Regions from separate parts of the Homo sapiens genome. Here all the other regions are linked to region 3. The links come from fine-mapping of genetic effects on gene expression. A gene starts in region 3. Each other region holds a variant in brackets. All regions are shown on one strand. Distances are from middle to middle. Region 1 overlaps OSBPL3 (oxysterol binding protein like 3). Region 2 has its middle 51 kb from the start of OSBPL3. Region 3 holds the start of OSBPL3 (oxysterol binding protein like 3).

The links.
Region 1: its variant is fine-mapped to the expression of OSBPL3 in monocytes after LPS (Quach 2016, PIP 0.95). The same link has a PIP of 0.9 or more in monocytes and monocytes after Pam3CSK4.
Region 2: its variant is fine-mapped to the expression of OSBPL3 in whole blood (INTERVAL, PIP above 0.99).

The regions. Positions count from the first base shown.
Region 1 is chr7:24,910,109-24,912,869 of GRCh38, forward strand. All of the region lies in intron 1 of OSBPL3 (oxysterol binding protein like 3), which reads right to left. Among named protein-coding and RNA genes, the nearest start is that of OSBPL3, 69 kb to the right of the region's middle. RefSeq lists an enhancer at 572-721. The variant T/C (reference allele first, on the strand shown) is at 1,170.
Region 2 is chr7:25,029,431-25,032,191 of GRCh38, forward strand. No RefSeq gene overlaps it. Among named protein-coding and RNA genes, the nearest start is that of OSBPL3, 51 kb to the left of the region's middle. The variant C/T (reference allele first, on the strand shown) is at 1,667.
Region 3 is chr7:24,978,710-24,981,470 of GRCh38, forward strand. It overlaps OSBPL3 (oxysterol binding protein like 3), which reads right to left and starts at 1,469. Exons shown (of 23, transcript NM_015550.4): 1 at 1,177-1,469. RefSeq lists silencers at 859-1,068, 1,119-1,628.

The DNA of each region.
Region 1 (2,761 bases), 69 kb before region 3:
AGCTACTATTTTCAATTTGAAGGTGTGTATTACCCTGGCCTGAAATAATCCCAAATGCTCAAAATAGGATAGATGGTAGACATCCAATCTTCAAATCATTTTCACCTTCTCCAGCAAGCCAGCCCCTTTCATGTTGCATTTATCACCCACGTGGTCCCAAGAGTCACTACAGATCAGGATGAATCAATGTTCTGAATGGAGAGAGATGAGTCCATAGGTCCTATGACAACTCCTCCATTCCTGAATGGAGAAATCAGAAATGGGCTGAGTTTTCCTCCTCCTTCTGCAGCTTAGCTACTCTTACTTGTCCTTCAACACCTTACAAGGAAGAAATACTTATGAATAAATGTGGGCTAATAAAGGAAGCTACAGTGGAAAGACAGGTGGCAAAAAGAAGACAGGCACACTGATGAAAACTCAATTCAGTATATATCCTATAAAGTAACTACTATGTGTCCACTGCTGTGCTAACCCTTCAGTGATGGAAACTAAGTGACAGAAACTTAATCCAAGGAGGAAACCACTGTGATCAAGGAGATAAGATGTCACAAATGAAACAAGCCAGAACACACCCCAGGGTGGGCCATCTGGTAGGTGCTATGGGCAGTCACAAGGGAAGAGCTCAGTGGGGCTGGAGTTGTGAGAAAAAGCTTAGGAAGAGGTGGCCTGCAGGGAGCCGTGAAGATGTGGATAGGGCTTGACTAGGTAGAGAGAAGCATGGAGGACAAAGCTGTGAGCTGGGTCGGGAGGGGCACCTCCTGCAACATTTCTCAACCCCGGCTGCGTGACAGGATCACCCTGGGAAGCTTCTACAAAATCCCAAAGCCTGGTGCCATTTCATACTAACTGGTCCAGACACTGGGGATGAGGCCAGGGCAAGGGCATCCTGAGACACTCCCAGGTGATTTGGATACACAGCAAGGGTTGAGCCACTGCTCTAACATAATCTTGCATCCAGAAATGACAGATTTACTCCACAGAACTGCCTTCTTTAATTTTGGTATTTAATTTTGTTTGAGCATCTTATGCCAGACCTATGTCTGCTGCATCCAATTTATACCAAATTGAAATGCAAAGCAGGATGTGACTTAGCAGTTTAAAGGGTAAGAAAAGATAGCACCACCCAAGAACTTAAAATAACATCTGGTGGTTTGAATTTTATCAGTGGG[T/C]GTTATTACGCTCCCTTAACCGACAACTGCTTGCGGAAGCTTGGTAGAGTTTTAACAATTGGCAACCACAGGCAGCATTTCATTACTTATCTAAAAAGACTATCAATTGAGTTACTATGAAATGTGAGCATGAAGTTTTAAAACTTCCCTATTTCCTACAAAAATCAACTTATCATCTTTTCAGAAATGTAAACAGCCAGCTAACAATGGGTAATGCTCTATAAGTGCTAACTGAACACTCTCAAATAACAAGAAACAAAATACCCTAGTGGGTCATGTATCAGATGTACACACTTCAAGTTTGTTTGTCCACTTAACTAAAAATAACCCTGGGACTCAGAATCTAAGCTTAAACCAAATTCTATAAATCGAAGTCCCCAAGATATATTTTGGAGGTATCCTTCCAAAACTGCAGGGGCGATAATAATTCCTTGTAAGAGAATCACTAATTTAGGGAACATAGGTGGGGAGAAAAAGGGATACAGGAAGTTTTACTCACTTCTAGGGGAAAGAAAGATTACTGCAAAAAACTTAACCTGAGACACTTTTAAACTAGTGCAAACTGGAAAAAAGAGAGACATAAAAGGAAAAGGCAGAGTAAACAGGTTTTAAAAAGGTGGGGTGGTTACTGGTAGACTAGAGCTAAAAGGCAAGAAAAACCTAAAAGCACCTCTGTTCCCAATGCTAACAATGACATGGTTATTTTATTCTCTCCAGTAGAGTGTATAGATCAAAAGCAATTTGAAGACTGTCTCATCCTTGTTTTTGTTTTTTCTTAATTGACACGGTAGGTAGTAGGTTATTTGTTTATCAAATTGATAACCTGTGTTCCCTCCCCTTCACACTAGCTACTAGAAGGTTTTTACTAAATTTTATCTCCGAAGTAAGAAAATATTCTCAAGTATCCATTTATCAAACTTTAAAAATTTGTGGAAAGATAGATCCTAATTCTTTAGGAGTTTACATCTAGTAAGAATGTTACCAAAAAATAATAGTTCATAGGAATTACAAATCAGAAAATGTAAGTCAAAATGTGGGATGTAAGTAATGTGTTAAAACTCTAAGCTGGATTCCATCAAATTAATTTTAAAAATCAAATTCAGCAACCAGGGCCTTGATCTTCCTTGCATATTCCCCTATGTTGCAGATTCACTGCAGACATCCATTGATTTAGGGAGTTTAGCACATTAAGGGCATTCTAATAAACCATTCTGTGCTTACCGTTTTTCATCAAAGAACTCTGAGTACTATGCAAAAGGCAACTCTCCCATCCTCACACCCAAAGACAGAACAGCCCCAGCACAGAACAATGACAATCATAGCTCCTGAAAATGAGAAGCACCCAGTCTCCAGACCCAAGGCAGACGTCAAGGCTTATTTATGGCTTAGAGCAAGCTGATGCCAGTTCTGATTCATCATTACTGGGTGTGGAAGATGTATTTTTCAAAGACGACCATACCAATGTACATCCCATCCCACATGCTCCTCTAACAAAGTGACCGTGACACTTCTTCATCAATAGATGGCTTCTATATTCCCATCCTTCAAATTTGAGTGGCTTCTAATTATGGCAGAAATGATGCTTCGTGACT
Region 2 (2,761 bases), 51 kb after region 3:
TAAGGCAGAACTGGGGGAGGGCAAGAAATGGATCCAAGAGCTCACCGGCCCAAGGAAGCAACCTAAAAAGAAATCATCAATAAGTAAATGTTTGTGAATGGATAGAAAAAGTCACAGATTCTTGTACCTAAAGACTAAGTTTGGATTTAAGATAAGTGAGATAACGAGAAATCATTCCAGAAAAAGAAGTCCTGGAAAATATATCAGGCGAAGGATAGGTGGAATAAAAGCTAGAGTTAGGAGAAGTAAAAATAGACTATGTACTTGTTAAATGATAAGACGGAGAGAAACAACCCGAGTCAAAGTAGATAAAACATGCCACGACAAACTGCAAATTACAGCTCAAGTTCTCACAAATGAGTTGGACCTCATTTATAAGGGGAGAGTGTCAAAATAATTCCCTGTGAGATGTGACATGGGACGAAGCAGTGACAAAGAATCACAGAAGACAAACCTTTATCTTGAGGTCTTACCACACACTCAGGCACAAATTCGGTGTGCTGAGAGGCTGGAGTCCATGTCCTGATAGGTGATGGGGAATAAAGGATGAAATTGACAAAGAAACAGTGACACGAGGTCACAGTAAAGCTGTGGTATAGGCCTTTGAGGGCATGAACAGAATAAGATCAAAAAGCAACAGGAAACTTGAAGAGAGGATTCCCAAAGGAAAACCCAATTTTTATTTTGCCAAGAAAAGCCTAAACAAACAAAAGCTATATATCGCTGAAGAAATAGGAGAACAACAACAAAAAAAAAAATCCCAGAATAAAGCCAGGTCTTTACGTTGAATTCATTTAGATAAAATAAAACTCATTACATTGTCCTATTTTTCTCTATGTGTTACAAAGTGGTATTCGGTAAGCACTGGATTTTATGACCCCTGAATTTCTTCCTAGTCCTAAGATTCTACGATCTTGGCCTGTTTCGTTAAAGCGGTTGTGGTTCTGTGTCGGGCATTAGGTGAAGAGACTATTAGGGTTAAGAGCAGATTTTAATTTAATTGATATCCAACCAGATGATCGACTTGTCACCAATCGCCACTGAAGAACTGTATTGATAATGGGAAAATTAATCTCCTTAACAGTAGGAAGGAGGAAATGTGTTGGCCACACTCTCATCCCCAATGACCCTTCACCATGTTTGTACCAGATGAAATTGACTTTCTTTGGCTGAAGCTCTTTGGACACACTTAGCATCTAACCCAAGAGCAAACAATCTCTAAATTGGTCCGAAATTTAGGGAGTGGCCTGGTGCAAGAAATACCATCCATACAGAGACGAGGGAGCTAAACAGACTCTAGCTCCTTTTGAGAATTTGACTGTGAGATATGTGTAGAAAGAATTTAATTCCTCATTGTGTTAATGGTGGGGCAATTGTCAAGCTGGAGACTTCCTGATACCAAAAGATTTAGCAGCTCTCCTTTAGTGGCCCAGTTCAGCAGTGTAGCTCCGTGAGTGGTTCCTGAAAGCTTCATCTTGAGTCTTTCTTTTCCCCTCCCAATGACGCTACAAGCCATTTAATATCCATTCCTGCTTAAACCGGTTAGAGTGGATTCTGTTCTCTGAAACTTACCAAATGTAATTCCTGCATTAAAGGTATTACAGCCTTTTGGGGAGATAGACATGTGAACAAATCTATGAGGGTAATGCACTTTCAGGTACATAGC[C/T]GGTGCACTGGGAGCATAGAGGAGTGAGCGCCTAAACTCAAGGAAGCCGAGGAATGACTCACACTGAAACTTGAGAGAAGACACTGCCCAGGTTGCAGGTGCTAAGTCAAAGACCCATGCACTTGAGGGCTGCACGGAGCTTCAGGCGTAATCTGCAGGCAAAAAGGCATTGCCCTGTGTGGTTACAAATGCAAATACTGAAGGCAGAGAGATGAAATAACCAGCTCAAGGCTTAACAATTAGTTTCGTAGTCCACACTGGAGCACAGGTCTGATTCCCAGGTCAGTGTTGATTTAGGTAATATTCATGGACTCCTACATTTATCATGTGTGGATAAATGTTACAACAGAATGGAGAAAGTGGGCATATGACAAAATGTTTACGGAACAAGAAAGGTGAGAGAGTTGAGAAGTATGAAGCTGTTTGGCAGTCCCTGTGAGTGCCCTGAACCAAGGTGGCTGGAGCCCTTTCTGACTGTTCTGCCCAATGGGCCTTACAGGGCCATCTGCAGGGGGTGCCATAGCACAGTTCTGTCACATCAGCCCTTTGCCTGCTGTCTGCCTCATGTGGGGCAGTGGTCTGGTGTTGATTAGTCATTGTGGTCTGTCCCACAAAACAAAGAGCACCTGTTATCCTGGACACTGGACAGAGGAGAAGGGGGAGAGTGTGGCTAGATTTACTCAAATGTGTGACTGCTTTTGCAAAGACATTCTGGGAACCATGCTCCTACCTTCATCTCCCACATCTAGGAGGCATTTGTCCATCTCTTCACCATCCCTCCCTCCCTTCATATATCTCTTGCTATTCTCTGTACCTATGTATTCCTATATCTACAGCTATTAACATCAAATACTTATCTAGTGCTTACTATGTGTCAGGCAGTGCTCCAAGTGCTTTATGTTGATGAACTCAATTAATGTAGTCCTTACAACGGCCCTGTGATGTGGGTATTCTCTCATTTTCCAAGGAAGGAAACTAGACACATGGAGGCTAAGTCAACTGCTTAAGGCCACACATCTTATATCTACCTGTTCACCCACCTTCATGTTTACATCGCTTCTCTTTCCTCAAAGGGTGACTCTCTCATCCCATTGA
Region 3 (2,761 bases):
GTAGTTTAAAATATTTCTAAATGCCCTCATCCCAATACTCAAACTCTGAGGGTCAGAGCAACACCTAGGGGGTCTCAAGCACCTCTGCGCAGTACGCAGACACATGGAAACCGACAACTTCACAGTCCCCTCAGCTCCAAGAGTCCCGACTGAGGAGACTGGTGGCTTGTGAGGCGGAGAAGGACAAGCACAAGTGTGCAGAAGGCAGCAAGCAAGTTGCGTTGCCGAAGGAAGGGCGGCGCGCCCCTGCTTAAGAAGTATCTGGACGACCTGCGACAGTGCCCATCAGCGACTCCAGAGGCCACAAACGCTCCCCGGGAAGCTGGGCAGCGCTAAGAGGCTGCCTGGGAGTTTCTGGCTTATGATGACAGTACTTAAAGAATTTACCTGACCACGGAATAAACAGAGACAGAGGTAGGAAAACCCAACTGTAGACAACGTTCAGACAGAGTGCATAAGTCCCTAAGACCCTGAACTAAGACGCTGCAGGGCCTCCAGGAAAGGACCAATGTGAGAGACACTGAGACGAGAGTTAGGGTGAGCCTGAAGGTGATCTGAACAGTAGTAATTGGAAACTAACAAAAAAAAAAAATTCCAGAAGGGGCCAGAAAGCTGATGAATATGTAAATTCAGACAAGAAAGGAATGTGCCCTGGGCCTCCAGCCCAGCACCGGGGAGCTGAGCAAGCCGGGGTTGGGAAGGCGGGCGAGCGGAGCGCCTGCCCCGCGAGCGTTGTCTCAGTCTCTCCGGCGCGCCCCATCCCGCGGATGTGGTAAAGCTTCGCGCTCGCCCCAATTTACCAGGCTTCCTGAGCCTCTAGCCCCGGCGTAGCGCCTCCCCGCTGCCCAGGACAGCTCCGCGCGCCGCGTCCTCCCGCACCTGCGCCGCGGCCCCTGCGCTCGGCTCCTCCTGGCGGTCAATCCTCTGAGCCGTCCCTCGAGGGAAGGTGTCCTGGGGTGGGTGAGACCCGGGTCCTCCTTCCCCGGGAGCTGCAGCCGGCACCCAAGCTCCCAGGCTTGGGTCTGCCCCAGGGCCGGAGCCTCCCCGGGCGACTCGGACAGACCCCGGTCCGGCAGAGAACCGCGGCGCCCCGCAAACAGCAGCCCTTCCGAGCCCGCGCCGCCGCCAGGCCCCCCGACACCCAGGCCCCATTTAGGCGGGCGCCCCGCCACTCACCTGAGCGCTGTGCAGCCGGAGACGCTCCCTAGTTCCCCGGGGCCGGGCTCCGGGGTTAGCGCACAGAACCGGGAGAAGGCAACCCCGGCTTCTCCGGTACCCCCGCAACGTGCAGCTGACAGCTCCCGCACCGGCCGCAGGAGTCGGGGGCGGGGATGGCCACTTGCAGACAGACTGCGGGGCCGGAGCCGCGCTGCGCACCGGCCGCGAAGCGCTCAAGTCCCCTCTCCCGGGCCGGCTGGCGGGCGCCACCAGCACGCGGCCAGTTCTGAGTACTTTGCCCAGAACTTCTCGGCGCGCGCCGCCCGGCGATTAGCCCGAGGAGCCGCGCAAGGGCGGGAGCGCAGGGGAGGGGCCTGAGAGGCCCAGGGGCGGGGCCCCGAGGGGGCGGGAGGGCGGCAGAGTGATGCACAATCTCACCAATCAGAAGTCGCCTTTCGGGAAGGAGGTGGGGCGATGTCCTCGGAAGAAGCCAGCGGATTCCATGACGCGGCGGGGGAACTAGGGACCCCGGATTCCGGATGGGTTGGGAGGGCGGAGGGAGGCGAGTCCTGCGGCGAGGCACTGGGTGGGGCTCCCGGTGGCCCAGCTCGGTGCCTGCGCGCGGTAGGCGTTCGGTAAATGTTCCTCTAGTGGCTTTTCCGGGCCAGGGAAGGAGGAAAAAGTGAGGGCAGCGCGGGAGGGGCAGGTTTACGGAGAAGGCTCCAGGGGACCCTTGCGGTCGCACAGGCTAGGAGAACTCGACCTCCCGAGAAAGTCAGACTGTGGCAGAGGAGTCGAGAACAGAGGAAATACATAGGGAGGCAGCACTCTAGGCACGAGATGACAAAGGACAGCATCAGTGTGAGACCCGGGGCTCGGAGACCGTGACCCTACCTCCAGAGGCAGTCGTGCAGATTCGTGCCGGGGTGATTTTGTTCTGTGCAGTTTATGTGCAAGGGGGTAGGAGGTGGGGAGAGCACCGTCGTTACTATTAAATCTCCCTGAAAGACGGAAAAGTCCACCCGACTTGACTTCCCACTAGCCCAATGGCCTTCTTTGATCCTAGGACGAATGCAAGCAGCTGATGGTTTGGGGTCAGTTTGCAGACTGCAAATGTGTCGAGTGCCGCAGGTGGCGGGTGGGAAGGGCATGAGCATTTAGTGAGCACCTAGTATATGCCAGGAGCAGTTGCGAGCTTGCAACTGTGAGAAAGGCGCACCAGGCTCCAGTACTCACGGGGCTTGCATTTTTTGTGGAAAGACAGACAATAAAGAAGAGAAAATACATATCTATGCAAAAAATAAAAGGCTGACAGACTGTTAGTACTGAGAGGAGGGCCAAGTCCACTTTCGAAAGTGGTTTAGCGCGTGATGGGGCGCTCACCCTGAGGGCCTCTAGGCGAGGGTGGCTTTTACCCAGATTCCTGAGCCTGGGAAAGGAGCTGCCACACCCAGTCTCGCACAGAGCGTTCCAGGCGAAGGGAATAGCAAATACAGGGTATTTAGCCTCCCTGAAGACCCAACTAACCGACCTCACCGAGCTGGGCACCGCGCGTGGCTCGCTGGGCTCAGCGCCTGGGACGGAGTAAGGGCTCCACAGTGTT